Linked DNA regions of Homo sapiens: region 2 is linked to region 1. Evidence: fine-mapped expression QTL. Tissue or cell type: visceral fat. Region 1 holds a variant in brackets; the other region holds the start of a gene. All regions are shown on one strand. Distances are from middle to middle.

Region 1 (2,756 bases):
GGGCATGGCGATGCGTGCCTGTAATCCCAGCTACTCAGGAGGCTGAGGCAGAAGAATCTCTTGAACCCGGGAGGCAGAGGTTGCAGTGTGCCAAGATCATGCCACTGCACTCCAGCCTGGGTGACAGAGCGAGACTCTGTCTCAAAAATAAATAAATAAATAAAAATAAAGAAATAAAACATAAGTTCCTTGAGAGAAGGGACTTGAGAGTAGGAACAATTTTGTTGTGGCCCAGTGCTTGGCAATAAATACTAGTAAAAATTGTTGTAAGAAATGTGAAAGGAAAAGAGACCCCAAACTCACAAAGGGAAAAGTTAAGCTTGGGAACTGAGTCACACAAAAACTGCCTTATTTTGGTTCCTAAACAGACAGCTGCAGCAATGGAAGGCCGCATATTTCCCCAGGTGACCTTTCTCACAAATTGCTCAGGAGGAATTCCTTGTGGGCTCCAAAGTCCTCACCCTAAGGCCAAGTTCTGTTGAATCTCACCAGTAATGGACTGTTCCTCTTTTCCCTCCTGCTGCTCTTTCCCCTTTAAGAATGGAAATCCTGAAACTGTCTTTGGAAAAAGGACAGGCCACAGAGCCTTCTGTAACTTTTGTCTCTTTTTCCCAGGCTTATCGTCAACCTTGGCAAAATAAACCGCTAAGTTGACGGAGATCTGTCTCACACACTTTTTTTTTGGTTTACGGAACAAATAAATGAAGGTTCTGTGGCAGGATCCAAACCCAGGTTTGCTTGCCCCAGAGTCTGTGCAGCTGGGTTCCAGGGCTCCACTGATCTAAACACACTCCCAGGATGTGTGTGAGAACCCCTGGGCTGCACAGACAGCTGGAGAGAGTCTCGAGGGGAGGAACGGCAGGCCCTGATGGCTCCCTCTGAGAACCACCAAAGTGCGTACTCCACGGGGAACCGTGGAGGCCCCACCAAGCACTGGCCCACATCTGTGGTTGCTGTGACCTTGGCTAAGTCACATCCCACTCCTCCCAGCCTCAGTTTCCATAGCTGTGGGATCTTCCAGCGGTGAGATCCTTGGACCCTGGGGTAAGGCCCAGATACTCCTACCCCACCGCTGCCTCTTGTAAACAGAGTGAGAGATTCCTGGGCCTGGGATGATGAGGCAGGTAAAGGAAACTAGCTATTGTCTCTGGGAACAATGGGGAACTCCAGAGGGGTTTGGGCAGGGAGGTGGGGGAGGGGCAGTGGCTGGCTCCAAGGAATGGATCTAGTCTTAGTTTACTCTCTAACCCCTGACTCTTCCTGGGATTAACTGCCCTCTCCACCACCTTCCCATCCTCACTTCCATTAGCTCCACCCCACCTCCCTTGCCTGCCCCAGACATTTTCTCCAAGGCGGGAACACTAAAGCTGCTGTGGATTTCCTCAGCATTCCTGGAAAAATAACCATCTTCGTCAGGAACAAAGCCGCCAGGGAGCAGTTTCTTCCAGTTCCCAGTTTAGCCTTGTGTCATGGATCCTTCCTG[C/T]ACTTCCCTGACCTCTGCCTCCCATGCTCTGCAGGCAACTTTGAGGAAACTGACCAAATCTCCTGTTTCCTTAAGGTCAATTGAAAAAAAAAAAAAATAGTATCTGGATACCAACCTGTGAAGGTGAGGACTGTGGGCTGGCACTAAGTGGCCCCTGGGATCTGCCTTTGTGGTCCACTCCCCAGATGCCCAGGGCCATCCAGAAACATTCTGGATGATGCCCATACACAGGCATCAGTTAATCGGGCCAGACATGACAACATACATTGTGTGCCAACTGTGTGAAAGCCCGTGCAAGGCTCTGGGTCAATGGTGAAGAGGACAGACACACCAAGAGCCACCAGAGTGACAGACAGCAGATGGGGAAAGCAGGAATGATAGCAAGAGTTGCACTAGAGCTAATGGGTTCTTGCCAGACCCACGGGCACCGAGAGTCCTGCTCTTCCCACCCCTTCTGCATGTCTCCACCCAGGCGCTCAAGAGCATGCTGCGACAGGCCACTGCCTCCGCATGACTTGCATTAAAAACATGTGTCTGGGTCCCAGCTCGTGAAGTTGGCTGGAGGTGCTTCTGAGTTGGTCGCTCTGGAACCACATGCTGGCTCTGGGACCCTCTCTCAGGGCCCCTCTGGATGCCAGAGCAGGCTGTATATTGCACAGCGGGAGTTGAGAGTGGCACCTTCCGGAGCTGTGCTATGGGGTGGTCCCCCTCCCTAAAATGGGAATTATAATAATACCTACAGCTGACCAGATAAAGAGATGAGGAGAATGTGAGGCTCAGAGTTTGGCTACCAGGTAGGTGTCTCATAAATATTAGTTTCCTTCCTTCCACCCTTATGTCAGAGGCCAGCAGAGAACTTGCTGCTCCTTGGAGGCCTGATGCAAGGCACCCTGCTGCTCATGGGCAGCACTTAGATCAGAGGCTGGGGCTCTGTTAATGCTTGAAGAATCAAGGGAGGCCTGCGGAGGCTGTGGCCCCTCGCTCTGTCATGTTTCACTGGCCTGTTGTCCTCTGGGAAATCAGCATTGGTGTGGGGCCCTTCCTGTTTGTGGGAGGTTGAGGACAGCTCTGACCCCTAAACAAGGAGTTCTGACAAGGAGCCAGGGAGGCCTCATCAAGGGCAGGGTGTGTCAAGGGGTGATGTTACCAAGGAGCAGGTGGGGAGACCTTGGGGCCAGGAACCAGAGCCAGCCAGGTATAGGCAGTGTGGGTGGGGAATGGGCGGAGTTCTAGCCCAGGAACTGGGAGCTCAGCCCTGTCATAATCACAGTGC
Region 2 (2,500 bases), 21 kb before region 1:
TGCCTTGGCCTGCTGAGGTGGGCCCCTGAAAGTAGCCACCAAATTGAGTACCTCCCTGCCTCCAGACTCCCAACACCTCTCCTGCAATTCTCCACTCCCAGGATTTCATATGGGGCTAGCCACTACCTGCAGATCTCTTGTCTTTTCTTCACAACCACCCATAAGCTAGTACTAGCACTGAATAGATGGGGCCAGCTGAGGTTCAGAGGGGTTGAGTCACTTGCCTGAAGTCACAGAGCTGGTGAGTGGAGGAGCTAGAATCCATATTAAATGTTCAAGCTCCTTTTGGAATGGAGAGAGGTATAAAAGCTGCTTCTCAGTTAGCCCTGTAGACTGGGAGGTGGGGGGAACTCTGATTCAACTAAAGGGAAAAATGAGGTGGAGACCAAGATCATTCCCAGCCTGACTTGAGTGTCAGGCAGCTCAGCCCCGCCCCATCACACACATCCTGGCATGGGGAGCTTACACAAGCAGGAGGAAAGTTGGAGGGTCTGGAGGCCACCGAGAGGAGTAGGCAAAGGGACTACCACAGGGCTGCAGAGAGACCCCTAGAGGTGTGAGGGCAGGGTTGGAGCCAGCCTTGACCTACGACTGCTCTCTCCTGGTAAGCAAAGCCGAGGACTGTTTGTCTTCACCCTCTCATATACCCTCACAGTAAATCAGTAAATGAAGACGTGCGCAGGAAGGAGACGCCAGGGATACGAGTTTAGCCAGTAAAAGACCGGGGTTAAAGAGACAGCCCCGCACCTCCGCTCGCGAGCCTGCACCTCCGCTCGCGAGCCTCCATCCCCATCCCCATCCCCATACCCCTCCGCCAGCGCAGTCAGCGGCACGGCCCCTCCCTGATACCGACCAGATCGATGGGGATCACCCGTCCACTCGCCTGCCCCTTGCGGAGGTCAACGTGACCGCAGCCTGTTTTAGGCCCGGGAGCCAGGCCGCCCCGCCCAGCTTGGGTCCCGGTCCCCGCAGGGTCCTCAGGCTCCCTGGCCCGTGCGCGCCACGTGCTGCGCGGCTCCGCACGCTCCGCACTGGGGCCCCACCCGGCGTCCCTTCTCCGGGCTGCGGAGCCGTCAGGCCCGCCCTCCCTGCCCTCCGTGGCAGGCGGGCAGCGGCGTCTTCCGCCCCGGCAGTCCCCAGTCCCCAGTCCCCGGCCCCGGGCAGCACCTGCCGCAGAAGCACTGCTCCCGCGCTGAGATCCGCGCGCTCTCGCTGCAGCTTCCCTCTCCCGCCGGGGCACATTCAAACCCGCCCTCCGCTGAGCTCGCCCCGCCCTGCGCCCACTGCCACCTCCCCGACGCCCGCGGCCCCGCCCCCGGCCCACCCCTGCCACCCCGCGGCGACTCCGCGCGCTCCGCCGCTCCCACCCCGAGCCCCTGCGCCCCCAGGGCCGCCTGGTCGTGTTATTGCGGTAGATAGGACCTCTTTGGGCCCTGCCACACCAAGGCTGTCTGTCCATCGTGTGGGGTACATGGGGCTGGAGGGTACAGCCACACATTAAGGACCTGCGCAGACTCCCATAAAATTCATCTCGGGACTGTTCCATTTACACACCCGCTGCTCAGACCGGCCCCGACGCTCCACGGCCCACTCCACCTCAGATATTCCGTTATCCCTTCCCAAGCCCTGCCCACGCCGCGCTTCCTCCACACTGCACCTTTTTCCTCCCAGCGCCCTCCCTTTCAGCGCCCCCTTCTTTCTTTCAGTCCCCCTCCTCTTCTTTTCCTTCAAAACTGCTTCTGTCCCCACCGCGCATTTTCTGTGACCAGCATGATGGGTTTTCCCATCCCTGACACATCCAGTCCCAGCCACAGACGCGCAAACACCACCCCACTCACAACTTTGACTTGGAGGGGGTATGTGCCTCTGCCTGTGCTTGCGTGTGCGCGCGGAGGGGGGTGGGGCAAAGCCCTCCAGCTCCCTCATAATTCACCCTTTCTAAATCCAGCACTTTGGAAAACTGAGGCACAGGTGGGAATGGGAAGAGAAAAAGCTAGGAACAGCCTTATATCCTCAGTGAATCCTATTGTCCCAGCCATCCTGACAGGCGGAAGCCTTGCTGAGTATGTCTTTCACTAGCTAAGGAGGAAGGTGTGGGCGTGCTGAGGGGTGGTCCAGCAAGTCCCTCCAAGGGAGGGGGAGGGAGGCCCTCTCTTTGGTCGGGCAATAAATGGGGTGGGGTGGGGGGCACTCCCTGCCCTTCCAGCAGTACTCAGTGCTAGAGGATGATCCTAAGGCTGGAAAGGTCCTGAGGAGAAAATCCAACCCACGCTGCCCACCCCATGCCCACTGACCCGAAGGGCTTGTCCCCTAGAGAAGCCACAGACACTGATTAACAACTGGCAGTACCTCACATCATAGGGATAAGGTAGTCCTACCCTGTCCCCAGAGAAACAGACAGGGCCCTAAGGAGAGAGGTGGCTTTTCTAATTAGGGTCAGTGGCTCTCCCCAAGCTACTCCAGAATGGGTGTCCCCAGCCTTCTGTTTCCATGCCCCACA

What was found. PIP is the estimated chance that this variant, and not a neighbour inherited with it, causes the effect.
Region 2: it holds the start of SLC29A1, and the variant in region 1 is fine-mapped to the expression of SLC29A1 in visceral fat (GTEx, PIP above 0.99). The same link has a PIP of 0.9 or more in subcutaneous fat.

The regions. Positions count from the first base shown.
Region 1 is chr6:44,201,253-44,204,008 of GRCh38, reverse strand. It overlaps a transcript of MYMX not described here. Among named protein-coding and RNA genes, the nearest start is that of MYMX, 14 kb to the left of the region's middle. RefSeq lists enhancers at 1-454, 455-1,455, 1,456-2,455, 2,456-2,756. The variant C/T (reference allele first, on the strand shown) is at 1,484.
Region 2 is chr6:44,222,309-44,224,808 of GRCh38, reverse strand. SLC29A1 (solute carrier family 29 member 1 (Augustine blood group)) reads right to left here and starts at 1,214. Exons shown (of 13, transcript NM_001372327.1): 1 at 1,168-1,214. RefSeq lists enhancers at 135-284, 527-1,385 and a silencer at 975-1,374.